Linked DNA regions of Homo sapiens: regions 2, 3, 4 and 5 are each linked to region 1. The links come from fine-mapping of genetic effects on gene expression. A gene starts in region 1. Each other region holds a variant in brackets. All regions are shown on one strand. Distances are from middle to middle.

What was found. PIP is the estimated chance that this variant, and not a neighbour inherited with it, causes the effect.
Region 2: its variant is the best candidate, but not a certain one, in a credible set for the expression of PLXNC1 in whole blood (TOPMed, PIP 0.86).
Region 3: its variant is the best candidate, but not a certain one, in a credible set for the expression of PLXNC1 in cerebellum (GTEx, PIP 0.79).
Region 4: its variant is the best candidate, but not a certain one, in a credible set for the expression of PLXNC1 in whole blood (TOPMed, PIP 0.50).
Region 5: its variant is the best candidate, but not a certain one, in a credible set for the expression of PLXNC1 in whole blood (TOPMed, PIP 0.79).

The regions. Positions count from the first base shown.
Region 1 is chr12:94,145,781-94,151,956 of GRCh38, forward strand. PLXNC1 (plexin C1) reads left to right here and starts at 2,797. Exons shown (of 31, transcript NM_005761.3): 1 at 2,797-4,253. The coding sequence starts at 3,192. RefSeq lists silencers at 2,564-2,693, 2,704-2,953, 3,024-3,253, 3,384-3,623, 4,284-4,423 and 1 more and enhancers at 3,824-3,923, 5,264-5,323.
Region 2 is chr12:94,243,021-94,249,196 of GRCh38, forward strand. It overlaps PLXNC1 (plexin C1), which reads left to right. Exons shown (of 31, transcript NM_005761.3): 12 at 918-1,005; 13 at 4,883-5,086; 14 at 5,207-5,392. Among named protein-coding and RNA genes, the nearest start is that of PLXNC1-AS1, 70 kb to the left of the region's middle. RefSeq lists a silencer at 5,659-5,859. The variant G/A (reference allele first, on the strand shown) is at 3,391.
Region 3 is chr12:94,302,402-94,308,577 of GRCh38, forward strand. PLXNC1 (plexin C1) reads left to right here. Exons shown (of 31, transcript NM_005761.3): 29 at 1,355-1,495; 30 at 1,576-1,650; 31 at 2,780-5,274. The coding sequence ends at 2,884. CEP83 (centrosomal protein 83) reads right to left here. Exons shown (of 17, transcript NM_016122.3): 17 at 5,297-6,176. Among named protein-coding and RNA genes, the nearest start is that of PLXNC1-AS1, 130 kb to the left of the region's middle. RefSeq lists an enhancer at 1,933-2,812 and a silencer at 3,427-3,526. The variant C/T (reference allele first, on the strand shown) is at 2,703.
Region 4 is chr12:94,170,460-94,176,635 of GRCh38, forward strand. All of the region lies in intron 2 of PLXNC1 (plexin C1), which reads left to right. PLXNC1-AS1 (PLXNC1 antisense RNA 1) reads right to left here and starts at 6,004. Exons shown (of 2, transcript XR_007063411.1): 1 at 5,922-6,004. RefSeq lists an enhancer at 752-1,261. The variant A/C (reference allele first, on the strand shown) is at 3,181.
Region 5 is chr12:94,124,873-94,131,048 of GRCh38, forward strand. It overlaps LOC124902986 (a long non-coding RNA gene), which reads left to right. Exons shown (of 2, transcript XR_007063409.1): 2 at 992-1,598. Among named protein-coding and RNA genes, the nearest start is that of PLXNC1, 21 kb to the right of the region's middle. The variant G/A (reference allele first, on the strand shown) is at 3,036.

The DNA.
Region 1 (6,176 bases):
TAAATATTTATTTCAGTTGTTCGTATTTCCCACACTTTTCAAATGTGAACTTGTGTCCTGAAGGTGGAGCTTTAGTACACAAGAAAATTGGGAAGGGGCAAACATGTTTGTACAAAATGGGGGTAGAATCAGCAAAGAATGCATTTATATGCTTCCTCGTCGCCTACGTTTTTCATGCCAAAAAGTTAGCACAGATTCTGATTTCTTTCACCGTAGGAGTCTGCATACAATTAAATGGGAGGCAAAAGAAGCCCACTCTTAAGAGTGGGGCTTATGGTCCCAGTAGAATGGCAGGGAACTGTAGCCATCAAAGCCATTTATACTTCTTGTGGGTAGTATTTTTAAGATGTTGTTTCTTTTTCAAAATGAAGCAGCAATGAACTGAGTAGTGATCAAAATGCCGCACCACAGAGTATGTTTAATCCAAATAGCTCCCAAGATGGTCTGTGACTGATTGTACCAACTCTACGGGACTTAGAGAAATGACTTGGTTACCAGTGAAGTAAAACTATCTCTGGAATGGAATTGAACTGTTGCTTCTCAGCACATAGCGACACTGCCACCGCTGGTTCACGGAGCCAGTGAAGGTCACTGAGTTCTGCATCAGTCACAGGGAAAACTGTCAAAACACCAGCGCATAAATCCCCTACTATGCTGTGGAGGGGGTCTCTGAGCTTCGGATGAGGTTTTTAAAATATTGATCTTCCCACTTCCAGAGGTGCAAAAATTCTGAAAGCATTCCAGGAGGGCAGGGAGTGGGGGAGCAAGGCCAGATATTTTGGAGCAGGTGAAACATCTGACTTGTCTTGCCTGAGATGTCCCGATTAACACCAACTGGGTACTTTAGGCCTTTCCCCTTCTTCCTCCCCTCTCCTTATGGACACTCCAACACCATCATCACAGCACAAAGGGCAACCTCATATCTCGTGGGAAGGCATTTTCTGCCTCCTGCCAGGCAAAGATAATGTTATCCAATTGCAAATGAAAGGCTTATGAATGAAAAGATGACCACTCTGACTTTAGTGTATGAGAGCCACTGCTGAAATGATAGGATCCTTGAACTTCACATCTAGAGCAGAAACTCACACTTCTCTTCTTCTCCCTCCACCTCACCCTTCTTTCCTTAAGCCTTCCAGAACTCCTGCCATATCCCTCAGCACTGGGGAGAACTTGAAGCACTGTTGGAGAAGTTTGAAACCTGCAACCTTCGGCAGGACTCAGCATGGGACAAAAGCCACCTCATTCCTTTCCCTTCCCAAAACAGCATCTCGAGCTGGGGAACTTGGAGGGAAGGAAGAAAGGGGATAGCAGCCAATTGCCCTCCCTGGGGCCTGGGGTCTGGAAATAGCCTGGGAAGGAACAGAGATCATTTCCCAACGATCCATAGAGGTCCTCAGCACCCTCCACTCCTATGCACCCCCTGGCTCATCTGCCAGACTGTAAGGGTGCTGATGGTGCCCGCAGCTGCCCCGGGAAGCTGGGAGGCATTTGTGCATCCTCTGGGAAGCCCCATTCCGAGAAATCATGAACCTATTCCCCAGTGGGCAATGATTCCCTGTGCTTCAGAAATTCTTGGCGGCTGTGGGGGCAACCCAGCTGTTATTCACCCTCTGGGTGAGGTGGTGAGACCTCAGGGGGTCCAAAGGATAAAAGTGGGTAATGATGAGACAGATGGAGAGCCTCGAGGGAAATACGGGGACTTGGGTCTAATAGTAGAAAGCAGGGCGGGGGCTGGTTGGTGCATTTAACTTGAGGAACTTTTCAGTCTCACTACAGAGAATGATCTCTGGGGGATTATGGCAATGGCCACAGGTGGCACTTAACTAGAGCCAGGTATGTAAGAGGCCCTGGGGCTAGATATGGATTCGAATCTCGGCTCTGATATCTACCAGCAGTAGAATGCCAGCACGTTCCACAACCTTTCTATAACCATTCTCCTGGACTACTAAGTAGGGATGACAATAACAGTCACTAATTAATAGGGCTGTTATGAGAATTATGAGTCTTAACCCATGTGGTGAGTTCACAAGCGCACCCGGCACGTAGTAAGTGCTCAGTAAATGTTAGCCCCGCTCATTAGGTTAGATGGTGAGCAGAACTTTCCAAGTGCTAGGCTTGAGAGCCTGGGACTCTGTTGCCAAGGGAGATTAGAGAACCTTTGCAAATATGGGCGCTCCGGCCCTGGGGATTGTCCAGAACGAGAGTGTGGCGCCTGCCTTTCTGCCACCTCACTCATCCGACCCGGGGAAACCCACACCCTGTCACAGGGGCGCCTTGGTCCCCGGAGTCTCCGGCTCGGCCATGTCTCCCGCGCGCCTCCCCGGGGCCTCCCTCTCGCCGCTCCACACCTGTCAGCCGCTCTCGCAGCAGCCCTGTGGCCCGAGCCCGGGGCCTCAGCTGCAACCCCTTCGCACCCTGGATCCTCGCTCCGCGCGCCTGGCGTATCCCCGACCCGGCTGCTGTCGTAAACAAAACCGGGCGTTGGAGCAGCACCGCGGGCGGACGGGCGCGGGAGCCCGCTCCGTGCGCCGTTAGCGCGCCCCGGGAGCCCCAGGCGAGCCAAGGGGGCGATGGTGGCGGCCGCGGCGGCCGCGGCGGGCGGCTGAGCTTTGTTATGAATAGATGAAAGAGGCCACCTACACAGTAACCCAAATTACGAGACCTCCCTCCTCCCTATCTCACCGAATCAAGAGGGGAGGGGAGATGGGCGTGGAGGGAGGGCGGGCGGGCGGGCAGGAGGCGGAGGGCGGAGGAGGAAGAGAGGATGAGGAAGGGGGCCAGTTGCATCCCACTTTCACAATGGGAAAGTGAAACGCACAAGCGCACCCAACCTCTCCAGCCCTCCCCGCCCGCCTCGCTCCTCTCCGCCCGTCCCCTCCCTTCCCCTCCGCGCCTCCCCGCGAGCGCCAGCGCTGCACACAGGAACTCTCCGGCGAAGGAGGGCGAGGAGGAAACGGTGCCGGAGCGCGCAGGGCTTGCTGCCGCCACCGCCGCTGCACAGGCTGCCGGAGCGAGCCTGCCGCGCGCCGCCCTCCCCGCTCTCCTTCCTGGGCGAGCTGCGGGGATGGGGCGGCCGCGGGAGCCCGAGCGCGCGCAGGAACCGCCGCCGCCGCCGCCCGCGTCTCCGTTGCCGCGCGCCTGAGCCGCCGTCGCCGCCGCGCGCCCTGCCCGGGGGCGGCCCCCCCAGCCCCATGGAGGTCTCCCGGAGGAAGGCGCCGCCGCGCCCCCCGCGCCCCGCAGCGCCACTGCCCCTGCTCGCCTATCTGCTGGCACTGGCGGCTCCCGGCCGGGGCGCGGACGAGCCCGTGTGGCGGTCGGAGCAAGCCATCGGAGCCATCGCGGCGAGCCAGGAGGACGGCGTGTTTGTGGCGAGCGGCAGCTGCCTGGACCAGCTGGACTACAGCCTGGAGCACAGCCTCTCGCGCCTGTACCGGGACCAAGCGGGCAACTGCACAGAGCCGGTCTCGCTGGCGCCCCCCGCGCGGCCCCGGCCCGGGAGCAGCTTCAGCAAGCTGCTGCTGCCCTACCGCGAGGGGGCGGCCGGCCTCGGGGGGCTGCTGCTCACCGGCTGGACCTTCGACCGGGGCGCCTGCGAGGTGCGGCCCCTGGGCAACCTGAGCCGCAACTCCCTGCGCAACGGCACCGAGGTGGTGTCGTGCCACCCGCAGGGCTCGACGGCCGGCGTGGTGTACCGCGCGGGCCGGAACAACCGCTGGTACCTGGCGGTGGCCGCCACCTACGTGCTGCCTGAGCCGGAGACGGCGAGCCGCTGCAACCCCGCGGCATCCGACCACGACACGGCCATCGCGCTCAAGGACACGGAGGGGCGCAGCCTGGCCACGCAGGAGCTGGGGCGCCTCAAGCTGTGCGAGGGCGCGGGCAGCCTGCACTTCGTGGACGCCTTTCTCTGGAACGGCAGCATCTACTTCCCCTACTACCCCTACAACTACACGAGCGGCGCTGCCACCGGCTGGCCCAGCATGGCGCGCATCGCGCAGAGCACCGAGGTGCTGTTCCAGGGCCAGGCATCCCTCGACTGCGGCCACGGCCACCCCGACGGCCGCCGCCTGCTCCTCTCCTCCAGCCTAGTGGAGGCCCTGGACGTCTGGGCGGGAGTGTTCAGCGCGGCCGCTGGAGAGGGCCAGGAGCGGCGCTCCCCCACCACCACGGCGCTCTGCCTCTTCAGAATGAGTGAGATCCAGGCGCGCGCCAAGAGGGTCAGCTGGGACTTCAAGACGGCCGAGAGCCACTGCGTAAGTCCTGCCCCCGGGGCGCCGCGGAGAGCGCTGCTGCCGGGGAGCCGCCGCCGCCGCCGAGGCAGAACGAGCTGGGGGCGAGCGGCGGGGCGGGGGTACAGCCGGGTGACATTTACCAGGTCTCAGGTTCACACCGCGGGCGGCCGTCCGAAGGCTCCTCTCGGACGGTCCCCGAGACCTGGAGCACGGCCTGAGGTCCCCAAAGGGAGAGTGTAAAAAGGGGGGCGGGGAGGGTTGGAGTTAGACTCAAAACTCTAGTGGCTGCATCCCATTGCCATCCTTCCCTGTCCAAACGGGGACGCTTGTTTGGGGCTGAGTCTCCTCGCGCAGCCCCTCTTTCCCATTCGCTTCTCCAGACTTCTCTGTGCCCCTTCCGTGTAGTCCCAGCAGGCGTGTGGGTCTGACCCTCTTGGTCAACAGTTAGCAACACAGTGCCCTCGGCAGAGAAGCCATTGAACCTAAAGGGCTCCCTGCCACACCCCAGCCTTTGTGGCCCCCTGTCTCCGCCCCCCACCGGCAACGCAAGTGCTGTGGTCTGAAGAGTTGCTAGCCCGCTCAGCGTGGAGAAATGCCAGCCTGCAACAGAGGCTTGCGCTGGAACCGAACCCCTGGCGTGAGCCGGTGCGAGGGGGCGGTGCCGTGGCTCTGCTCAGGGTGCGCTGTGGTCGCCAGCCGCCGGGAGAGGCTGGGCGGGAGGTGGCCTTGTGGTAAAAGCCTCATCCTAGAGGGGAGTGCAAGGGAAAGTGTTGGGGGTGCTACAGGCAGTTTCTGGGCTCCAGATTGCGAGACTAGATGGCGGGACTCAGAGTCACCACCCTGGGGCTGAACCAGGCAAGCGATACAGGTTTCCCCTGGGCTCCCAGGGCAGCCACAGCTTTTATCTTGAGATTGGCATTTCTTTGACTGGAAAATAAAGAGGCAGTTCAAGAGGGTCCAGTTGATGGGGATTATGGAGCCATTGTGCACTTCTCCGGAGGCCGTTTCCCTTCCAAGGCGGCTGGCACATCAACTCCACATATGGCTCCTGAGAGGGGAGCCTGCTGGGAGCCTCCTTTATAACTGGACAAAAATCAAAGCGCAGAAATTAACGGCTACAGGTGTTGCCATTGTTTTGGTACAAAATGAATCAGAGAGGAAGGGGAGAAGTCACTGCTTGGAAAATGTGTTGATACAGGGGCACGTTGGCTCCCAGGTATATTAATATGTGTATAGAAAGACAGCTTCCCCCACCCCCTTCTTTCTCTGCAAAGCACATCTTACCAAATATTAGCCCTATGAGCCAGGGAGAAAAAAACCAGGAGGTCTTTTGCAAGGCTTCTTAGAACGGTCACTTGCTGCTGCTTCTTTGCCTGTCAAGCTGTGTGCTGGGACACACACATTAAGGCCTTCATTTTGTTACTGGTATAATTTTTAAAAATATGTAAAAACACATATTTGCCTCCTAAATGACTTGCTGTTGCCGTACACATATAATGTAATATTTGATTCCTGTCTTTATTAGATCTTTATAATCTAACGGTTTAAGTTTGGTAAAATTATCGTTTCCTACTTCTCTGTTGAAAGACTTGAAAGTACCCCCGAAATATTACTTTGTGTCAAGCTTTAGACACACTTAGTCTCTGGGGTTAATGACAAGCCAGCTCAGAGGCCCACAGCAGGTAATGAGGGTGAAAGTCCAAGCTTTGCCATCTGACAGCTGTGTCGATGTGTGGAGCCAAAACATTTCTCTTGACTGCGTCTCTCTACCTATTGGGTCCTGGAAGACTCAGTTCCCTTCCAAACCCAGCCAGCATCTTGAATGCACTCAAAATCCACGTTTTGGCTCAATCAGGTGTTCCTGCTTGTGCCGGGATGGGGAGGGGCAGTGGCAGAGGAAGTCGCGGAGCTTCTGCGAGAGAGCTGCCCCTTGGAAATCAAGCA
Region 2 (6,176 bases), 97 kb after region 1:
GAGCAAGAATGTGGCTCTAAATGCTGGCCATCGGGAGATCACGCTTGGCTCGGTTTTCTGGTAATGGCTACAGACTGGCATGAGGCCAACTCAGCCCTTCCCCATTGTGGCTGGAGGATTCAGAGATCAGTGTCTTCTCTCTGCCCTACACAAATTGGGTTGCTCAGGCCCACCTCCTGGTCTTGTCATCAGGGGCTCAGCTGGCTGTTGGACCTGACGTACCCAGGCTCTTGTCCCCTAGAATGAGTGTCTGGTGACCTACGTGAACAGGGGTGCAAGGGCAGACAGAGCTGTGGACAGCTGTTTCTTTCACACCCAGTGACCGCTTTGCTTATATGCACTGAGAAACGTGAAGTTATTTGGCCTGGTTTTAGAGAGATGGAATGCAGCTGTTATTTATACGGCGTACCAAATAGGAATTTACACTTTGCATGTCATCTGTAATTCTACCTTGCCCAAAGTGTTTCCTGTCTCTCTAAATAACATACCATTGGTAGGTTAGGAGTTTGATTTTGAAAATTCTTAGATTGAAGTCTCTTTATATAGATTAAACAGTAATCAAACAAAATTCTGTTTAGTGAAACCTTTTCAAGGTACAGCTCCTGATCTGATTATATGTGGCGATATGACACAAACAAAATTCAAATTCCATCAAAGAATCTGGGCATTTTCCTAGAATTAAAATAGGATCTGACCTGAATTTTTATATTTATGCATCTTGAAACCCATGAATTTGTGGCTGGTATCCTGAAAAGATTCCCAAAATTGTCCTGTATTTGAAATTAAAATTCATTAATTTGCTCTCAAACATAATTGGGTTTAATATTAAACATGAATAAATTGATAGCTTTGTTCATAAATGCAAAATGCCTGTGTGTTAGCTATGAAACCCTTATTGTTGCTTTTATTCCTTGCAGTGGTGGTCAAAATATAACCATGATGGGCAGAAATTTTGATGTAATTGACAACTTAATCATTTCACATGAATTAAAAGGAAACATAAATGTAAGTCTCCAGCTGCTTTGTAATAATAGTTGTTTTCAAGGATGGTTCTATTTTCATCACACTATGCTATGTTGGGGGTATTTTTTGTTTCTGTGACTTTGGTGTTATAAACTTTTACCTATGCTATCATATATTCTATCCATGCTAGAATGGAAATAATAAGACCTTATCCTTGTAGCTGAGTATTTCTAGTTGCAGCAATGAGGAAAGAGAAATGAACTTGGTACGATAAGACCTGACATTTTCTTTTTATGTGATTTGTGGCAAGTCACCCTAATGAGGCAATGCTTATGAATATGTGTGAAAATGCTCCGTGAATGGTTAAGGTGTGATATAAAGAATTGCATTTCTGTGAAGAGTAGGTGGTATTGTTCCCATTGCACAGAGAGAGTTGGGTTCACAGAGGTTAGATGACTTGCCAAGGTCCCAGAAATCTTGTCATGTGCTTCTCCTTCTCTTCGACCCAATTTGTTCCCTACCATCTGATGTCACCTTCTCTTACCTTTCGTCTCCCCACAGGAGAAATGGTAGGAGGGGTCTGGTTTCCACCTTTGCCCGATTCTCCCACTGGTGCCTCCAGATGGGGATCCTCTAGAGCAGGGGTGTCAACCTTTTGGCTTCCTGTGGCCACATTGGAAGAAGAATTGTCTTGGGCCACACATAAGATACACCAACACTAACGATAGCTAATGAGCTAAAAAATGGTTTGTGCATAATTTCCGTGATATCCACCACCACAGATAAGCAAAAAAGTCCTCACATTCAAAAGGCTGGACACGGCTGCTCTAGATGGAAGCTTCTGATGCCAAGAGGGGAGATGAGGGATTTCACATACAAGTCAGGCCTCCAAGTGTACTTGCACACACTTCTAAATATCCTTCCCCATTCTTTCTTCCCCTTTTTCCCTCTCCTTGATGAGATATGTGAGGTGGCTGCCTCTCTGGGGCCCTGCCTGACCACTTCCTGCCAAGGCTGACACACTCCCTCCTCAGGAGCAGTGTGGGTTCAGACCCAAATTCCGGGGGCCGCCTGATAGGCCGTCCTTACAGCCTTGTGGTGCACACATTCACCTGCTGACACAGTTCAGAGCCACTTCCAAGCCTCACACTGTATCTGACTCCAGGCCTCATCTCCATGGTGTGAACACCTCCAGTTGAATGGCTCGTATAGTTTGACCCTCTGAGCAGAGGCATTACCTGAGTTTGTCACGGACTTGCTCTCCCTCCTACTTGCTGTTCCCAAATCAAGTTGAATTTTTTGAGCACCTACTGCAGGCAAAACATTTTGCTGGGTGCAGGGACAAAAGATAAGTGAGATAGTCATATTGCCTTCATGGAGGCAGGCAGCAAATCTACATTGGGATTGAAAGTTGAGGCTGGGTGTGGTGGCTCACGATTATAATCCCAGCACTTTGGGAGGCCAAGGCGGGAAGACTGCTTGAGGCCAGGAGTTCGAGACCAGCCTAGGCAACATAGTGAGACCCCCATCTCTATAAAATAAAAATTAAAAAAGTTGACAGCACAGAGTATCATCAGGTTCTAGGTCCTCTGGTTCCCTAACTGTTCAGAAACCCTGTGAGTCCAAGAAGACACCATTTCTTTTCACATTAAAGAGAAATTAAACATGCATGGGATTAAGTACGCCTGCAGTATGGAGTGGGGTGGGTGGAAGCAGGGAGGTGAGTTCAGGTACAGAGGACAGAGTCCTCGCAGGCCCGTGCTGGGAACATCACTCAATCCTGCTTAGTGGGAACCTAGAGGGTGGGTCTGGAATGACCAAGAGCGATAGCTGTAAAACTGAGCTGGGGCCACAAAAAGCAGCGTCAGACTGAAAACTTTGCCCTTAATTCTGTAGGCAGCAGGGAGCCACTGAAGATCTCTGAGCAGGAAGTGACATAGGTCTAGGTACACTGGACTCACACTGGACCGAGACAATTAGTGACAATGAAAGCAGTCAGAAGGTTACCAATGGGAAAAGAGACTATGCAGAAAGCAGTAGACTAGGGAAAGGGGAGGATTCTGACCCAAAAGGCTTCGGTGTCCTGTCTTGAGTCCTGGGAAACCACGAGAAAAGAAGAGAGTGTCCAACCCCCAGCAGGGGCCAGCTCCTGAAGTGCTTGTTGCCGCTGAATCACTCTTTGTTGGGGAACCTCCTGCAGGGCGGTTATTATTTTGGCAATGGTGCACAGCTGAGTTTGGAGAGGCAGGAACTGAAGAAAGGCTGGGAGCCCAGTGAGGATGCTCATGCCAGTGCAGGTGTGTCTGAGACGTCCACAGTCTCTCTGGGCTGACAGTAGCTCCCTTTGGGCTGTGGTTAGCAGAGCAGGTCTCAAGTGCTGGGGCATCGTGAAGCTAGAGATGACCAGCTTGTCTTTATAGCAGTATC[G/A]TTGAAGGGAGAGTGGGGGTGACATCATGGGAGTGAGAGCACAGAGGAGGAAGAAAAGAGCACCTAGGACTGGTGGCAAAGCTTCATTTTAAGGAATGACAGACAGTAGGATGGGCCGTGAAGGTGGCCGAGAAGGTGCTCAGAAACCAGTGAAAAAGAGTAAATCGCATGGCGCGAGTTTGTCACGAGTATGGAACTGTAGAGTCTTGAGGATAATAGGGTTGGGTGATCCTCTCACCTGCAATCCTTCTAGAAGGCATCTTCAGTAAAAAGCCAGCCTGCTAGGAGTTAAGGCTGCTGAGGCAGTAGAGACAGTGGTTTTCATCCTGAGGACAGAAATGTGAGCAGGAGATTCAGGGCTATAGTTTGGAAAGATGTGAAGGGAAAGGAAGGTTGTGCTTGTCCAAATCTCAGCTCTTTACATCATATTTTCCCACCAATTGCCTCTTCCTATTGTCTTTTTTATGCTCTAGTATCAGGGGGTGGCGGGGGTGGGGGAAAAATAGTTTTTCCCACCTGATAAATTTCTTTTTATGAGTTATAATTGCTTTTCTGTAGAATGTTTGCCATCCTCCCCTAACCCACCAGCCTCCTCTGCCTGTCCTTCTGTACACCTAAACAGGACAATATATTTATGTTATGTATTTACTAACTTTTTAAATTTTATTTTTTATATATATAGAGAGAGACAGGGTCTCACTGTGTTACCCAGGCTGATCTCCAACTCCCGGGCTCACGTAACCCTCCTCCCTCCGTTTCCCACAGCGCTGGGATTACAGGCGTGAGCCACTACGCCCAGCCTATTTATGTGTTGTTGTTTTTTTTTAATCCTGTAAATCAGGCCACCTTTTTTGCATTGTTTTCAGTTTTCATGCTCTTCATTTCATGGGAGATGCATTGTTCCTTTTACTTTTGTTTTCTCCTGTTTTCTGTTATGCCTGAAAACCCTTGTCCTCCTTGTGTCTAGTGACTTCTGCTAAGGCCCTGCAGGAGGTTCCCCCAACAAAGGGTGATTCAGCTGCAACAAGCGCTTCAGGAGCTGGCCCTTGCTGAGAGTTGGACACTTTTCTTTTCTCGTGGTTTCCCAGGGCTCAGACAGGCTGACCCCAAGGACACCTAAGCCCCTTGGGTCAGAATCTTCCCCTTTCCCTAGCCTACTGCTTTCAGCCTAGTCTCTTTTCCCATGGCATAACCTTCCAGCTGCTTTCATTGTCACTCATGATATTAATCATAATATTAACTAGCATGTTTTGAGTGCTTACTGTGTGCCGGGCCCTGATCTAAGCATGTATAATCTCAGTTAACGTAGCCCTCATTTAATGTAATGTAGGGTGAAGTCAATCCTGTGAGGGAGGTAGTTTTGCTGTCTCCATATTACACATGAGAAAACAGAAGCACCAAGAAGTTAAGTTGCTCAGGTCACTTAGCTCTTAGAGATCACAGCTGGGATTCGTTAACAAAGTTACTAAAACATTCTTTTCTTTTTGTCCAGGTCTCTGAATATTGTGTGGCGACTTACTGCGGGTTTTTAGCCCCCAGTTTAAAGAGTTCAAAAGTGCGCACGAATGTCACTGTGAAGCTGAGAGTACAAGACACCTACTTGGATTGTGGAACCCTGCAGTATCGGGAGGACCCCAGATTCACGGGGTATCGGGTGGAATCCGAGGTGGACACAGAACTGGAAGTGAAAATTCAAGTATGTTTCTTTTCTTTCTGGGTGGGATGTCACCCCGACCCCTTGACTGGAAAGGTGTGTTTATGCTCGTGAGTTTCTACATGTGCTCTGATTTCTCCATCTTCATTTTGTTCTTTACAGAAAGAAAATGACAACTTCAACATTTCCAAAAAAGACATTGAAATTACTCTCTTCCATGGGGAAAATGGGCAATTAAATTGCAGTTTTGAAAATATTACTAGAAATCAAGATCTTACCACCATCCTTTGCAAAATTAAAGGCATCAAGACTGCAAGCACCATTGCCAACTCTTCTAAGAAAGTTCGGGTAAGTGACCTGGCAGTCCCACCTGCTGTCTTTACCTGATTTTTGTGATAATTCCTTGGCTAAACCAGAGGCCAGAATGGAATCTTTCATGGATCTTCAGATCCTCACTTTAAATAGAAGATAAACAAAGCTGGTACTGCGAGCCCAAGCAAAATAGCTCCAAAATAGCTGGCTGAATCCATCCCTGTGCCTGTTCGAACGTCAAAGCGTTGGACACACCATTGTCTATAATCCTAATGAGTCTTGATAGCTTTTGTTCTAGCCACACATTTATACAGTAGGATCGGCAAGCAAAATCTCTAGACCCATTGACAAATGAGCTGTCACTCTTTTCTCAAATGCGGAGGTGACATGTCTTAGCAGAAACCCAAAACAAACAAGGGCCTCTTCAGCACACTCTGGGTAGCATTAGAATCAGATGGAGACCAGATAATCTCTGGGTCATGGGCTGCTTCCTTCACCATGAAGTCATACTTTCTGCGATTAATCTTTTCCCAGATATGTTTGGGGGACGGATCACTGCTATATTTATATCCCATAATAAAGATGTGAGACCACTGAGAAGGGAAACACATTAGAAGTCACCCTTTATAGTATTCATGCCGTATGAGGCTCTGTACAGCCTATATAAATTCTTCTTGATCTATCATCATAAATAATTGGATAAAAGACAATGCAAAAGAACTTCAGACTGGAAGGCAACAACAAAAATGTGTTCATGTCCCACTGGCACCAGTTAATAGCTCTGTGGCCTTAGGTAAATCACTTGAGTTTCCTGAGCCTC
Region 3 (6,176 bases), 160 kb after region 1:
AATGAGGACCAGAAACTGTAGGAGACTCAGATCAGTCTACATATGCCTACTTTGTGAACTTTCCCCAATATATTTCCTACAGCACTTTCTTCATTTGACTAATAAAGTTCATCTTAGCATGCAGCACACTGAAAGGCACTTAAATGTTTGTTCACACTAAAAACAGTTGTTTATGAATTATGTTCTTGACACACTTCACTTAATCCTCACAAGTACCAAATAAGGTAGTTATTATTACCCTCATTTTATAGATGAGAAAATTGATGTTCTGGGAGGTTACAAGTCTTGCCTGAAACCACACAAAGTAGCAGAATTATGATTTCTGATTTGTCCAACTCTTTCTGTCAACTACTGCTGCTAATTATTTGTATCATAGTAAGCACTTCATAAATCTGTCTTTGCAACTAGATTGTAAGCTTCTCAAGGGCAGCCACTAGTCTTTATCATTGTACTCTCAATGCCTGCTCCAGTGCTTAATAATGTTTATTGAATGAATGAATGATAGCATGATTTCTGGGTTCCACTTAAATTTGACAAATGAGAAAATCTCAATAATATCTCAGTCTCTAGGCATCCTTCAGAATGATTCATCAAGCCATTGATTCAGCCTCATGGGCTGGGACATTAGCCCTATCATTAACTTACCTATCTTCCCTGAGTAGAATTTTTTAAAGTTTTGTGAAAAATAATGATTTTTAAAAATAAAATCATATTTAATTTTTAAATATCACTGTTATAATTACGTAGAATCATTCAAATTGCCAGAGAACCTCTGCAAAATCACACATCAGAGCCACCAATACTAATGACCATGTGCTTCCCTGAAGAAACTGGATGATGTCTATAATCTAATGAAATAAAAGGGACAAGCTGGAAAATCTGCCTCTGCCAATTACTTACCAGTTTCATGGTTATATAAAGGGCTCAATCAGACCTACAATCAAGTCTTTTGTAAATGCCAAATTCACTGGTGGGTGAGGATGAGAGCAAATGTTTTAATTCAGGCTTTTTACAACCATTAGTAATGAACTATGATTGAAATAAGTTCCATTGTTACAGTAACTCAAAATCATGCAAAAATAATAATTTTAGTTCTTTTATGAGAGGAAGGCAGAATATATTAGCATTTAATCTGCCTGAAAATAACAGTGACTCACCAGAACTATCTAGATAGCAGTCAGTCATTCAGTCAACAACATTTAAGGCCTACTGCATGAAGCCTTGTTAGCAAGAGGTAAAACTGGTTGGTGGTGGGGGTTCAGCTACATTGGAATATTATAAATTCCTCCATCTTTTTTTTTTTTTTTTTTTACTCTTTTGGTGATGGTTGCTTTTTTTTTTTTTTTTTCCCCAGGAAGCACCAACTAATAAGCTTCTCTATGCCAAGGATATCCCAACCTACAAAGAAGAAGTAAAATCTTATTACAAAGCAATCAGGGATTTGCCTCCATTGTCATCCTCAGAAATGGAAGAATTTTTAACTCAGGAATCTAAGGTATCATTAGAAAGCAGAAATAAGCTTATATTTGGTTACTTTACGTCATTTCAGAATCTCTCAACAAGTCTTTCTTTTAGAAACATGAAAATGAATTTAATGAAGAAGTGGCCTTGACAGAAATTTACAAATACATCGTAAAATATTTTGATGAGGTAAGATTTTAAATAACATTGTTTTTAACCTTTGAATCAGGCACAAGGATGTGGTTATAGCATTCTGTCAGTTTCAGAACAGCTCTGGCATCCCAAAAGGCCAGAAAGGGAAGCCAGGAAGCCTGTCTGAGATGGGGGATCCTGGCACTGAGCCAGACCCTGTACATGGCTGCCCCCCTTACAGTTTTATCATGCTGCCCACATTTGGACCAGCCTGAATTTACATTTGAGTTCATGGGGCCTACAGCCACCCTGACTCAAGTTAACTTTGATGAGTAAGTAGTGGCCCTATTAAATGGGGTCAGCTTATGCTTGATTGTAATTTGCTAAAAATGAAAGCTAAGCTTGTTAAATTGCCTAGATTCTGTATTCAATCGTTATATGAAATTATGACATATTTCTAACTTAAGCGACTATTTCAATAAACCATTCTCCTTTATGATTAATTCTCCTTAATCTGGGTTTTTTTCTTTGGAAATTCAAACAGACACATTCATCAGATGCTTTGTTTCCAAACAAATGTTAACTCCCCCTTCCCTGATTCCCCCCCAATCATGCTGGGACAGGCTATCCATGTCAATGGTGAGAATAGCTCACCAATTCCATTTGCTACTTGAAGATGAAGTGAAGCTCTAAGGTAGGGTAGAGGCAATGAGTTCTTAAACATGATAAGCATCCCTCGTTCCAGGGGTCAGGGGAGAGAAGGGAAGCACGAGGAGGGACTACACTGCCCAGATGGGAGGGAAGGGAAGGATCTGTCTCTGACCAGGATGTCCCTGCCTGCTGCATTTAAGGAGAAATACTTGCCTGCATGTTGGCTGCCCAGGAATGCTTGCTGTGCTTGGAATGGCTGTGACATAATGCATAAAGCAGGGCCTAGGAAGCCTGGCCCCATATTTGTAAGCAAATAGTTGGTATTTCTTGCGAGCTTCTATTTTAAGCCAAGGTATTGTTGATCCTGTGATAAGGACTTAGCAAAACAACTTGCAAAGTGAGTATGTAAATGATGGAAGAAAATGTTGGCATCTGTTTCATACAGATTTTACCACTCA[C/T]AGCATCAGGTATGCAAAAAACAGAATTGTAACGCTAAAACCACAATATCTAAAATAACTGTTCTAATTGTCAACAGATTCTAAATAAACTAGAAAGAGAACGAGGGCTGGAAGAAGCTCAGAAACAACTCTTGCATGTAAAAGTCTTATTTGATGAAAAGAAGAAATGCAAGTGGATGTAAGCACTCTGGGGCCTGGCTTAATCTGGCAAAGTTCTTCAGACGACTTGGGAGCAAAATGGCTGCTTGAGCTACTCTGTGTCGTTAATTTGTTGTTTGCACATAGGTTCCACTTTGGGCACTGTCTTTTTAAGAGACCAAGGCACATGCACAGCTTTTAGAAAGCATACCAACCCTTGTGCCTGTGTGTATACCGTGGGAACCCTTCTGTAAATAGAGTTGAAGTGGTTGTTGCAAACAGCCTCCTTGTTTACAGAGAATACAAGGCCAGTAAGCGAATGTCAGTATTGTAACTACAGTCTCCACTTAAGCACAATGATATAAGTGGTTTTGTTTGAAAACTACAGCTATGTAGCACTTGTGCTACACTGCACCTCTGCATTGTAAAGGGATACTGCCAGTGCTCAAAACAAAATGTGAAATGAGTCATTTGGAAACAAGGTGGGGGTGTTAGGGCAACCTCGAGGATTTGCAGCATTGAAACTTTCCCCAGTAGTTCTTGGAAAAGCTGACCGCAGAATTTGGTAGTGTACACTTAGCATTTGTGAGTGTGTGTGTGTGTTTAAACCAAAAACTAACAGTGTTGCAACATTGTTGAAAGGGCTCGTGTTTTTCAGTGGTCATCAACTGCACTCCATCAAACTCACCTCCATTTCACCAAGGAGCTCTAAAGTAAGGAGAGTGGGCTTTATTTAAATGAACAGCATTTTAACCAGATACTTTGTCCTAATGTATGTTCCTTTTCTTCATCTGTTTTTTCATACTAAATGTATTTGATAGTGGACATGTTGGATATTATACAAAAAAATCATTAATTCATTTCTGTTCCAAAACCTTTGATCAGAACGATCTGTGGAAGAGTAACTCCATTTCTATATGAGTGAGTGTCTCCTTGCTTTAGATTTCTGGTGAACCCTGTGGTTATGAATACTTGTGTGTGATTTAAAAAAAAAAAGATACATTTTACATTTTATCGAATTGCTGTTCACACTGGAGTATTATATATAAATATATATATTTGAGGCCCAAGGCCTGAAAAATATTAGTATACAACTTGGTATCTTAGTCTTACTATGTACTTTTTGAAAGTATTCCTCGCAGGAGAAAGAATTTAAAATACCCATTTTATTCATGCCTTTCTTTTTAAAGAATTCTCTATCCAGTTATACTGTAGTCTTTTTAGTGCTGATTTTTTAATTCCTGAATTTTTGCTGCTCATGACCAGTTTTAATACCACTGTGTTTTCCTTCTATTAAACCAGAAGAAGTAAACAGCATAATTGGCAACTCTTGAGCTTTTCTTGTGGCAGGCACCTTTTACCCTTGGTGCTCCAAATCCCCCATCTAGGAAAGAAAATTTTTTCAAGTCAAATAACATTGATCACATATTCCTTGAAATCATTTACCAACACTGTATGGAGCATTAGGATTTAAATATGAATTTGTCTTAAAGGCAATTCCTTTTTGCTTCTGTATTATCTGGAAAAGCATGAGAGAGGTGACACCTCAACAAACTGATCAGAGAAAATAAGCAGTTACTACCCTGATAGGCACCTTCCCAATCCTGTTGCTTTTGACCATTGTCTGTCCAACGGACACACCTCAAACAAACAAAACTACCAAATAGATGACAGATCAGAATAAAGGTGAGAGGTCTGGTCCCCATTGAAGGCTGCTACAGTCTTCAAAGAGGTGAAGGAGTTCATAAGAGAACAACAGTAGGAAAGTTGAGAGCCAAGGGTAGGAGAGTTGCCCAAAAGACTTCCCCTACTACTTTAGGGTACTGAAAACTCAAAGGATCAGCTACAGCTTTATCTAAGTATTTACTAAATGCTACATGAGGGTGTCCCTGTCCAGCTTTCTGGCACATGAGTCCTGTGTGGAGAGTTACCTCCTCTTCCAGGGACTGTGCTGTTGGGAACTTTGGGCAAGTCACTTACCTCTTTGTGCCTCAATTTCTGTATAATATTTCTAAGCTACCTCACTGAGGTGGTATGAAGATTCACTAATGTATGTAGCGTGTTTGTCAATCCTCCAGTGAAAAGCACTATCTAGATCACATTTTGGATCACATTAGCCAAATGCAGTAAATGGCCAAATTAGATGTGTGCTGAAGACAATCAGTCACTGGGTCTATATTAAACAGCAACCAGAGCAACAAATGGCAAACAATTTCTATTTTCAAGTTTCTTTGCATATTTTTTTGGTGCAAAACCATTTATAAACTTTTTTTTCTAACACTAGTGTCTACAGCAGCATTCAAAAAAATTCTGTTACCTTTTCTGTATTAGGATTTAAAGTCTATTTCTTATTGTATACCTGATTGAAGCTGTTCTTGGAGATGAATGTTTTAAATGTCTATATCCAAAAAATAAACATTTTGATGTAACTGTGGACTGTCTTTTTTTTTTTTCAATTTTCTAGTTATAATAGTTTTTTTATTCTAAGTGGCTCCGTGGAAATTATTTTTCAGAGATAAGGTGTCACTGTATATGCTGTGAATAAGCAGCTATATTATGTAGTAAGTAAACCTAGTTTGCTAAATGGTGCTAAGGACTGCTCAATTACAGTCCTGGCCTTCTTCACTATCAACTGGGACTTTTGACTATGAACACCTTGGGATAATGAACATTCCACTTAATTTGGGAGACTTGAGCTTTAGCCTCGTTAACATGAAATTATTCCAGCAGAATTCCTCTAAAAGATGTCACATTAAAAAGGCTTCCAATGGGTGTAGACCAAAAAAAATGAGAGCATACTTAGGGACACAAAACACATAATTATTTGGTTAGATCCACAGTAATGGGAAGTAAAGTTAAATACCAACAATGTTTATAAAAGGACCTGAGTTCAAGTTTTATAATCAATGGCCCCCTTGTTAATACAGCCATAGGATTTAATTATTTGCACTTATTCTCTATTCTAACAAAGCCAAAATCAGTAGACTGTCATATTGCTAAATATATGCTATATGGTTGATGTAAAATTAAACACACGATTAAAAAAAAATTAAGCTCTTTAATTATGTGCACACAGATTTTAGAAAAGGTAGCCTTTTGTATATAGATACCTTTACATTCTTTAGGCTGACTTTTAAATTGTCATCTTTTTTCAACTACAGTTTTTGTATATAGTAAACCAGAAGATGTGTATGGACCCTGTTATGGCCAAGCATCTCAAAGATGAAGAGAGAATTAATGATAGTTATATTTCACTCAAAATGCCAAAAAAAAAAATTCAACAAAGTAAAAATTTTAAAACTTGACTCTAACTAGTTCCTTTTTGTTTTACATTCT
Region 4 (6,176 bases), 25 kb after region 1:
TTTACGGCACCTTATGTGTCTATGCTGTGGCTCAGCTCAAACCCCACCTCCTCTTTGATGACATCTAGGCCTGGAGTGACCTTGCTCTCCTCTCATTTCCTGAAATACTCATGATCTATGTCATTCTTGTGGCTCATTCCAAATGTCTTGCCTGGAGACCTCACCTTTTCACTGGTGTCTGTCTTGCCTTCCCAACTTGATTTTAAGCCTCATGAGAAGGGGGCCATGAATTCCCACAGCCTAATACAGTGCTGAGTGCCTGGTAGGCATTTGATTTAATCTGTTTTCTTTGGAGGAAACCCAGTAACATATGGGAGGGAGTTTGTTTGTATACACATTCTTTTAAAATATACATTGATCATCTTTCCTGTTGTGTTAGCTTTATTTCCTGGGGAAGGGTAAATACCCATCCATCATTCTACACAAGTCACTGGGTGACGTCTGTAGCTCCACCAACCTGGTCAGGCTTATTGGACCCATTTGCCTGGCGGGAGTTTCCATCAAGCCTTTCTGGGCCTCCTCACCAATTATCTCTTCAGATTTGGGATGTTTTTGATGAGTGTTTTGACAAGAACACTGTTTCCCCAAAGCCGAGCCAACCAAACCGCTACATGGTGAATTGGAGGTGAAGGAACACTCGTCTATAAATAGTTCCCCATGGGATGGCCTGGTTTTGCCTGTCCTGTGTGTTCACCCAGCAGCCTGCATGCCGCTGGCCAGCTTTTAGCGATGTTGTGGCAACCAGGGAGTGGACCAAGCTGCAGCTTCATGCTGCTGAGGAGGCCGCAGCCGACCGAAGTCTCGCTCTCCTCAGGATCTGTATGGGGTACCCATTCAGAAGCCACCTGTGTGGCCTCGTTGTTTTTTTCAAGGTTTGAATAACAAAGGCAGCTTTTTGTTGTTTGTTTTGTGACTGCTAACATTTACACAGTGCTTCCTAGATGCCAAGGGACTCTATATCTTCTACCGAATTCAGTCCTCTCCATGACACAATGGGGCAGGCCTACTATTCCCATTTTACAGATGAGGGAATCGAGGCCCAGAGAAATGGGATGATTGTTGTTCAAGGTCACACAGGGGCAGAGCAGGGATTTGAACCTGGAATGACTTCAGAGACTGCACTAAGATCCCCTATGCTGCACTGACTTTGCAACCTCTGCCGCACACATTGGTACTACTCTCTGAGGATTCCGGGGGCACATGGGAGACATGCAGATAGGGTTCCATGCCGTGGCTGGGGACACATGCTCCTGGGGTGAGTCAGCCTTCCTAGAGGCTCAGGAAAGAGTCCCAGCTTGAGAATAAGGCGGACCATCTGACTGAGGAAATACCTCACTGGCGTGGTAACTTCTTGGGAATTAACACCCACCCCCCAAGCCCCCAATAAGAGAGAAGTTCTCTCACTCAGGAGAAGGGTGTGAGGGATGAACTTGAGCTGACTTGCCCCACCAGGCTCCCTAGGGCAGCTCAGTAATGCCCAAGCCTCTCCCCTGTATCCTGTGTACAGATTCTTGGATGTAGCCCCTGAATTTACCCAGAATCCTGAAGACCCAGGATCGTGTGGATGATTTGGAAACTACCGATAATCCTCAAATCCCTTTATTCAGAAGCTTTCAGCTTCTCCCTTGCCAAGGCTTGTCACCAGAACTGTTAGAAAGGATGAACACTGATAGACACAAGCTTGGCTCCTTAAGCCACAGCGTGGGGGAACTAATGAGCGGCAAAAAACAAAACTCAACCCAACGCAGACAGTAGGAGGAGGAGAAGAAAGAGGGCTTGGATCAGCCACAGCCTGACTCATCAGTTTCTGAGTGATCATGAGTTGACGGCATTTTGACATGTGCCAGGCACTGTTGTGTATACCTTGTTGAATGAGAGTCAGGAAACAGCAATTGGGGCCCAACTGCTGTTTTTTACCACCACCAGTAAAAACCTGACTTCTTAAATCTCTGCAAATCCTGTGAGTTTTAATATAATTTGGTGCAATTTTAAGCCTCATGTTATTTAAATAATTTTTCCTTATTGTAAAGGTAATATATGCTCATGTAAAAAGTTGCAGAGTCGTCGGGGGTGAGAGGACAACAAAGAAAAAATTACCCCTAATCATGTCATGCAGAAGCAACTGCTGTCAGCATTTTGGATTCTCTATTTATGTAGTTGAGGTCAGGTTTTGCATCCTTTTCTTCAGTTAGTGAGGGAAAATGCTTACATTAAAATGTTATTGCAAACCCTTTGTAAAAAGTATTTTTAAATAACTATATCATATTCTATTATTTGGGTACATTATTTTGAACTTAAGCTAAGATACTGGATCACTTTTAAAGTATCTTTAAAGACATGCATTTTCCAAGGAAGACGGCATTACCTCCAAAGGTAAGATTTCACTGATAATCTGTGAAGAAACTAAAGGCTACAGTATGCCAGTACCTTTACTGTCCTCCTTCTCTTGCCTATAGACCTAAGTCCCTTTATAAGATTTTGGGGAAATAGAAGGAATTTAGAGCTCAAAGGGTCCTTTGAGAGCATCTAATCTGCTCTTTTATTTTATCGGTGTACCGTCCCATGGTCGTGAGGTGAGTTATGTCTAGTCACCCCCGCAGTTATTTCCCCATCCTGCTTCTTTTCGGAACATGATTGCATGCCGGGTTTTTTTCAGTCGTCAGCATCTCCACTGAGATCAGCTGAAAAGTATGGTCACACTGAACTCAGCTTTGGGGAATTCACACTGCACGTGTTGCACAATGTATGCATTTCTGTAAACACACACCGAGTCTTTCTCCAGATTATAGTACAGCCTATCATGTGGTTTGGATTCCTTTGAGCTGACTCTGTTGCCCATAGAAAATTGTCCTTATTTCAAAGGCAGAATTGCATATTTTGAGCTTTTCCAGGTGGTAAAGTAAGTAATAACAGAATATGCATGAAATTTGAAATTTGTAACTTTATGCATGCCCATTAACCTTCGTGTAAGCATAAAAGATAAGAAGGCAATGGGCAAGGAAGAATAATCGCTAACATTTCTGAGCTCTTCCTGTGTGCTGGGCATTAGAACCAGCATCTGCACGGGTTAACTGGTTTAATCCTTACCAGTCAATACTCTCACCATCCCCACTTTATAAATGAAAAAACCTGAGGCCTCGAGAGGTTAGGTATCTTTTTCAAGGTGCTCTGAACCAAAAT[A/C]ATCTGTCCCAGAGCCCGAGCTTCTATCCCCCAACTAAACTGCATTAACTCTTACAGAGCTTAGTAGAGTTTGAGAGCTGGTTTTTGTTATATTTCTTTCTAATACTGGGGTATAAGGGTTGATACCAAGATGCAGATGTTTGAGGTTTCATAAGAAGGGGCCGAGAACCCTGTGGTTTAGTTTGTTCCTATTTGGGGATGGCTTCCTGGCAACCCAGCTGAGTGCAGAGCCCGCTCCTCTCTGAGCTGCGCGTAGTCCACGGGGGTCTCTGAATCTCCTTTGGGGCCCCAGCTTTACCCCAGTGGGCTCCTTTGTAGGAAAGGTAGGAATTCTGTATTCAAGTTGCTGTTTTGAATGGTGTCAGCAGTAAAGACTAGTGTCTCCCCGACCTCCCAGGGACTGCAGTAGGGTTCAGGATACAGGAAGCTATATCACATAGCTCTATCCTGTCCCCATATCCAGTCTTGAGGTATTTCCTATGTGCTTGGGCTCAGACTGGTTACCTATGTGGCCCTCTACTCCCACTTAATGGCTTTCTTTTGTTTATTTTTTTTTCTTTTTTGAGCCAAGGTCTGGCTCTGTTGCCCAGGCTGGAGTGCAGTGGTGCAGTCTCGGCTCACTACAACCTCTGTCTCCCAGGCTTAAGCGATCCTCCCACCTCAGCCTCTTGAGTAGCTGGGACTACAGACCTGTGCCCCCACACCTGGCTAATTTTTTTGTATGGACAGGGTTTTGCCATGTTGCCCAGGCTGGTCTCAAACTCCTAGGCTCAAGAGATCCTCCCACCTCGGCCTTCCAAAGAGCTGGGATTACAGGCATGAGCCACTGCACACGGCGCCACTCAGGGATTTCGTTTATTCAAATCACAGCAAAATTAAACCGGTTCCAAAAAGTTCTGTCTGAATTCAAACAGAAGCAAAAACTCTGTACTGCCTAAAGAGTCTGCCTTGACTCTGGTTATTGAAGTTTTTGAATGAATGTCAGAGAAAAAAATCTTTTGTAAAGGCAAGCTGTACTATATACCCAGAAGATGTTCAAATAAGGAATAGGAGAACTTGGGGAACCTAGAACAGGACCTGGGACCGGAAGTGGTGGTGGTGGTGGGGATGACTGAGCTAACAGACCAAAAAGTTAAAACAGGAGGAAGTGTCAAAACTTGGAAGTGGGTTCATTGGTTGGCTGTTTAGGATGTCATGTGAAGCCTGCTTCAAGTTCTCCCCACCTCATTAATTGCAATTTATGAGTTTGCAGGGACTCCCCAGTTTGAAACTTTTAGTCCCATATAATCCACAAATCTAGAACCTGTGGTTCAGACTGTATGCTTCTCTTACTACCTACACTGCAATAAGTAGATTGGAAACAAAAGAGAAATTTGCCTTGATCTTTATATTTCATCTTTGTTACTCCTAACTACTGAGGCACATTAAATACTTACCTTGCTTTCTCCTGTGTGTGCATGTGTGTGTGTGTGCACGCATGCACAGGCATGCACGTGTGTGTATATGTATGCAGGCATGCACGTGCATATGTGTGTGTGAGCTTGTGTGTGTGTATGTGTGGTTTAAGTCTCCTTCCCAGCATTTCTCAGAAACTGCTTATGGAAAAAAATAATAATAAATGAAAGGGTTGGCTTGTTTGCCCTTCAACTGGTTAGCCCCACAGAGTGAGGCATAGGAAATTAAATTTGGCATAAAATATTATAGCTTTTTGAACACCCGTGGCTTTTCCATCTCATGGTAATCGTAAAGAAAAAAAAATAGTTTTTTGTTTAATTTTTCTCCCCCCTCATTTTCCTCACCATGATATCCTTCCTGTGGGTGATCTTGAACCTGTCTTACAATTGTATGGTGTTGAAATCTCCACTCAGTTAATTTCAGCAGTGTAGTTGGGAGTTTTATATGCAACAAAAATCCCAAGGCTCGTTAATAGTCTACCATGAGGCTTCAGGAAGACATCAACAGAAACAATATGTTGACACGAACTGAAATTCTCCATCAGAGAAAATTTGTTTTCTACACAGGCTTCAGCTGGAAAAAGCTGAAGAGCCCTATAAAATCTTGAATGCTAATAGCGTCGTTTTTCATTTAATAAATATCTACTGGGCACCTTGTATGTGCCAGGCACTGTTCTGGGTGCTGAATATACAAAGGTGAACAAAACAGACAATGCCCTTGCTCTGCTGGTGGGAAGAAAAAGACAGAAAACAAGTAAATGGATTAATCAGCGATAAAGACACTTCAGATAGTGCTATGAAGAAAATACAGTGATGGGTAGAGAGTGACAGAGGTGTTCAGCGGAGAAGTGATCAGGGAAGGCTTCTCAGAGGAGGTGATGTTGGAGACTTGAAAGATAAAGGAGTATACAAGCATACACATGGAGAAGGTTCAGATTGACTTCAGATTAGATCTATATTAAGGTCGTATCCTGGAAGATAAAAATCCACATCGTGCCCAAGGATTGTGTGTGTGAATTGGATGAGATTTCTCTTATGCAAAATTCAACCCGTTTTGGGTTTTTGTGACTCATTGTTACTTCCTGCATTGCTTCACTGATCATGTTCTTTTTCCGAGGCTGCCCACCTAAACTGAGCTGAGGAAGGAACGTTTCCCTTGCTCCAGTCTTGCTGGCTTTTGTCTGTGTGTTGATATTCTCCTGAAGTTTGCAATTAGAAAGTCCAAGTGTTCCATTAGTGCCTGTGGGCTGGGGCTCGGGCTAGGTGAGAGATGATATGAACACTGACCTGTCCTTTAGTCATCTGAGAGAGATGAGACTCCAGGGGCCACGGAAGCAGAAATCCCTCACCCCTCTGTGTAGCACATTTGGGACCTTTGTGGTGAAAACTAAAACTTCCTCTTGTCCTGTCCTCAGGATTATGGAGAGCATTGTTTGCATAATCTAGCAAAAAGAAAAACAATTTGACTCACTCACCCTCAAGGATTTTTAAATTTAAATGTTATATATTTATTTTTAAGGTAATACAATGATATTGTTTAAA
Region 5 (6,176 bases), 21 kb before region 1:
TCGACCCTTCTCCTTTTTCCCAGCTCCTAAGGTTTCGCTTCATCCTGGCTTCTTTGTTATTTCCACTAGTAAAGTACGAGAAGCACTCAGCACCACACCTGGCATAACTAACACTTCTCATGTGCCAGGTGCTACTGGAAGTGTGTTATGTGCATTAACTCATTTAATCCTCATAACCACCCAAGGATGGAGGGTCTATTCATGTCCCTATTTCACAGATGAAGAAACTGCACAAGTCACTATGCAATAATGGCCACGATTATTATTGGAATTAGTAATTTCATCAATAATAGCACAGTGACAATTTTCAGACTTCTGGCAGACTTAATTTTGTTTATTTCTGACCTTTACACTGCTCATTGAGAGCCTCTTTAGTAGACTTCTTCCGTGTACTTTGCAAATTGTAAAAGCTTGTTTCTTTTAAAAAATCCATTATTAATGTTATTGGTGGAAAACTTTTTTAACACTGCTGGTCAGGCTTTATAGAAAAATCCCTTTCTGTATCCTCCCTCATCAGCAATACTTCTCCGAATTCCCTTCGATTCAGCAAAGGTTTATTAAGAACCTGCTAATTGCCTGGCATGACTCTGGAGATGCCAGCTCCAAAAATTCAAAGTCAAGGAAAAAAACCACACAAATAGCTGTAATAGAATAGGATATAGGCTCTGCTTGTCTTATAATCAAAATACAAATGCAAGTGATTGGGAAAAAGTATGATCTAGAGTCAAGGAGACAGCTACCCAGAAGGTGTTTTCTTAGACTTACTTTTTTTTTTTTTTAAATAAATATGTAAGTGGTCAAAAGCCTTTTTAATATGAAGATGTGATAGCTCCATATTTTATAATGTGTTGCCCTCATAAATTTGGTCTTAGAATTGTTCTGTTTTGTTTTTTCCAAATCCCCCGGTTTTTTCACTAATGACGACCTACTGTTTAGATGTAGATTGTTCTATTGTCGAATGAATTTTACCTTTTTTCCTTTTAATTTACAGGTATGAAAGCTAATCTTTGAAGACACACTTAATCAGCGAAATGGTGATTGTTGAAGGAGAATTGTGGCCTGATGCGCTAATTTCTAAGTTAAAAAGGAACATCATTTTCGCAACAATAAAGTAGTGATCTGCCCTTCCACGCAGTGTTAAGACACTTCCCACAACTCCTTCACCCTTCTCATTTAGGTAAGTACTAAAATAAACAGGAAAAGGGAACTGTACCTCTTATACCTATGCAACTGGCCCAGTGAATTGATTTCAAGTTTGCATTTGTGAGAAAAAAAAAAAGATGACTTCCTTATTTATATTTTAGTGGGCACAAAATTCCCCTTCCAGAGAGCCCTGTCTTTATCCCTCAGCCATTTTCAAAGAGCACTTTCATGCAAAGAGCAAACAGCTTCTCTAGGCGGAGAGTTTGAATTTCCTCTTCCTGAACCATTTCCTATATCTGAACTGCCCACATCTTATGGGGCAAGAACATCACAAGAGGATGTAAAGGATCCAGCAAGCTACTAACTCAGCAGACAACACAATAATGCCAGTCTTAGAGAACTAAGTGCTAAGGAGAGTTCATGGCAATGAATTCAATAAAGGTCTTTTCCAACCAGCAGCCTGATAGGACCCTTTCTCTCTTCTTGTTGTTGAACCTATCTATATAAGAACACATTTTTTTAAAGATGCATGATATAAATTGTGATTTAATTGCTTGAATAGGTGGGACATGACCTCCCAGAGCTGTGTGCATCAATGTCAAGAAAACACGTAGGGGCCCTAGTTCTCAACATGGTTGCCATGTGGTAGAGGGACCTCATAACAGCAGTTTCTAACCTGGTCTGTGAACTTGGATGGCAAAATAAAATGACATCTTTATTTTCTCTTACCTCTAACTGAAATTTAACATTCCCTGCAATTACAAATATAGGCAACAAACTAGAATAGTATCAGTAGCACCTGTGACTTTTTGTCACCAAGAGAAATCACACATCTTTCAAATCGCATGACAGTTGTTGCAGCTATCTTGATTTATACTTATTGTTACTTCAGATAATGATTAAGTATTAGAGATGTTACTAGTTTTTGTTATTTAAACTGTTATTAAATAACACTTTACCATGCCATATTTTAAAAATTATTTTGTAGCTGTATTTCAACATAGTTTACAGCTTTTGTAATTCTATTTATTATATTTTTATGCATTTTAAAACATTCTGAGGAAAGTCCATAGATTTCACCACACTGTCAAAGGGGTTCATGCCCCCCGCTGCCATGTTAAGTATGCCTTAGGAGACTCTCAGTATTGACCCACTGCAAGCACAGTTTCCATGCAGTGAAGGGCTCGAAAATGATCCATTTAGTGCATTTCACTGTGCCTTTCATACAGTTTTAGTTACCTCTTTTCCAATAACACATCTTATCAAAAACCTCAAATGCAGTACAATTGTAAAATATGGAATCGTTTGATCTTCAAATCGCTGGTTAAAACTGCATCAGCTTTCAGCTATTCAAGAGCTGACTATCTAAGCTGTGAATTATCAAGGTCCCCTTTTCTCCCTGGTTTCCTCTTTGGCTGTTTACCATGTGGTTCTTTTACTACTGGGTCACAGGTGCACCAACAGATAGGCAGGGCTCCCCGAGGAAATGACATTCAAATCTGACAATTTTCCTACATCACTAAGAAGTTGTGGACCGGTGGAGGTTGAAAGTGTTGATTAAATTAAGGCTTGGAATTACCTGTGGATTTTAATTACCATTCTACCACTGTCCCAGTGTCCTCTGTCTCCCCACCGCCACGCTCTCCTGTAGCTCTAATGAGACACTTATCAGATGCTATTTTTGTTTGTTAGTTATCTTTGCTCTGCATACGGTCTTCCCACAGAAACTGTGTTCTCCTTCTCTTGTGTTGCCCCTGGTGCTTGGCAGACAATAGATCCCCCATAAATAGGTGTGGCTGAACTGAATCACTGTCTATGGTACATACCCAGTGGTCCTTCATGGTTGAAGATGTCAGTGCTAACATGATGATTTTCTATATTGGATTTCTTAC[G/A]TCTATTTGGATTTTATTACGCAACATTTCTTCTACAAATGCTGAACACTATGTACCAGGCATCATACTAGATATTAGAGACAAAGATGAATATAATATGAACTTCCTTCAAGGAGTTCTGAGGTCACAGGGACACTAGACAAATACATATCGCGATGGAGTGTAACAAGAGCAAGTGTAGGCATATGGACTAGGTATGTCGGTGACACCCAGAAAGGGCTGGTCATTTCTGGAGAATGAAAATGAGAGTCAGAGAAGATGCTGGAGTGGGAACCCAAAGCATGGGTTGGATTTAGGCAATGGCAAGAGGGACGGGGAGAATTCCAGCATCAGAGAACTGTGACTCTTTTAGGATGTAACAATACACAAGCATTCTTTACGTACCGGACACTCATTTCTTCCCTGCTAAGAGAACCTAGTTGTGTATCTGGGATAATCTTAAGGAAGGTAAGTTCCTCCTCCAGACTTGGGCTTATGAGCCAATCATGAGCCAATTATGGTCATTCTTTTTCTCTTCACCAGACATTGGTATAGTGTGGGCATGTGACCACATTCTGGTCAATGACGTCTAAGGGGGAAGTCTGCTCAGGGATTTCTGTTTGGGCAAAAAAAAAAGACAGAGTCTTGCTAGGAGAAAGTAGCCTTCCCCTCGTTTTGAAAACAAATACAATGTTTACAGTTGTGGCAGTTATCTTGTGACAGGAGAAAGATATTAAAAGCCTGGAGGGGCTCTTTAATAGTAACACTGAATAGCAACCAGTACTAGCAACTGGGCTCCTTCTTGTGCAAGAAAAGATTAACCTCTACTTGCCTATGTTCTAAGTAATTAGGGGTTTTTTCCCCTTATAGCTAAACACATCACAACCGATGTATACAGCTTCTGAAAACTATTTTGCACAGGTCTCCCCAGTGGGTATCAATGGGGTCACAACTAATACCCCCTGAGTTTTTCTGCCTGATTATCCCTAACTTGTATAACTCTAGGACTCAACCTCTTCCTCCTTCAATCTCTCCAGTCATTTTGGGGAGTCCCCAGGGGAATATCTTTGAGAATGTAGCTTCTTCCCTGATTCTCTCTATCCTCCCTTTGATGCAAGGAGAGTAAGAAAGCCCTTCTCTCTGACTCTGTGTTTCACTCTGCCACTAGACCCGAAGGTGAATGGGTCTAGCTCCATTCATGGAATGGGACCCCAAGATAAATGCCCTGAATGTCATCAACTTTTGGTCAGCGTATACCTTCTAGCTGCTGACTACCCCTGCTCTCTATTAAGGAATGTCTGAGGAATAGTAAGCATACTAATTTCATCTACTTTCCTTTGTGTCTTTCCATAGAAGGCTAGCATCAACCTCTTCCTTTAGACAGACCAAAACAGCAACAATCATCTGCAGGCTTATCAGCCTGTGCCAATAGATCCCCAGAGTTCAGATTAGCTGGCCCCAAGGAGCTACTCTTCATCTAGCTCAGCCCAGAGCCCAGTCACATGTGCACATGAAGGAATGGAAGACACAATATTGCAAAAATGGTCAGGCAGGGACCTTATATATCAAGCTAAGAAATATAAGCTGTATCCTCTAAGTCAGGGCTTCCCAATAAGTGTTCCATAGAGTGTTGAGATACTACCCTGCCCTCTCAGCCCTTGGGACTGCTGGGTGGAACCTGACAGAGGGAGCTCCTAGGCTGGTCACCTCTGGCAGCCAGTGCCCTTGTTTGGTGTAGGAAGGTATTGCCAAGAAGAGTGGGGCCCAATGAAGCCATGGTATAAAACAATTGGGAAACAATGGGGAGTCATTGAAGGATTTTTAACAGGAAGTAATCCCATCAGCTTTCCATATCGGAAGACAATGAAAGGGCAATGCAAAGGCTGGGTTGGAGGAGGTGGGCAATGAACCTGGGACCAGGACCACCAGTCTCACCTAAAATAGCCTAGTGATGAAATGATGAGAGGGCAAGCTAAGGAGTAGGAAAGAGAGAGGAGGGAGGATCTGGGAAATAAGAAATCTTTTTTTTTTAATTATACTTTAAGTTCTAGGGTACATGTGCACAACATGTAGGTTTGTTACATATGTATACATGTGCCATGTTGGTGTGCTGCACCCGTTAACTCGTCATTTACATTAGGTATATCTCCTAATGCTATCCCTCCTCCCTCCCCAACCCCACGACAGGCCCCGGTGTGTGATGTTCCCCACCCTGTGTCCAAGTGTTCTCATTGTTCAATTCCCACCTATGAGTGAGAACATACAATGTTTGGTTTTCTGTCCTTGTGATAGTTTGCTGAGAATGATGGTTTCCAGCTTCATCCATGTCCCTACAACTCATCCTTTTTTATGGCTTCATCCATGTCCATGAACTCATCCTTTTTATGGCTGCATAATATTCCATGATGTATATGTCCCACATTTTCTTAATCCAGTCTATCATTGATGGACATTTGGGTTGGTTCCAAGTCTTTGCTATTGTGAATAGTGCCGCAATATACATATGTGTGCATGTGTCTTTATAGCAGCATGATTTATAATCCTTTGGGTATATGCCTAGTAATGGGATGCTGGGTCAAATGGTATTTCTAGTTCTAGATCCTTGAGGGATCGCCACACTGTCTTCCACAATGGTTAAACTAGTTTACAGTCCCACCAACAGTGTAAAAGCATTCCTGTTTCTCCACATCCTCTCCAGCACCTGTTGTTTCCTGACTTTTTAATGGTCACCATTCTAACTGTTGTGAGATGGTATCTCATTGTGGTTTTGATTTGCATTTCTGTGATGGCCAGTGATGATGAGCATTTCTTTCTTGTGTCTGTTGGCTGCATAAATGTCTTCTTTTGTGAAGTGTCTGTTCATATCCTTTGCCCAATTTTTGATGGGGTTGTTTGATGGGATTTTTTCTTGTAAATTTGTTTAAGTTCTTTGTAGATTCTGGATATTAGCACTTTGTCAGATGGGTAGATTGCAAAAATATTCTCCCATTCTGTAGGTTGCCTGTTCACTCTGATGGTAGTTTCTTTTGCTGTGCAGAAGCTCTTTAGTTTAATTAGATCCCATTTGTCTATTTGGCTTTTGTTGCCATTGCTTTTGGTGTTTTATTCATGAAGTCCTTGCCCATGCCTATGTCCTGAATGGTATTGCCTAGGTTTTCTTCT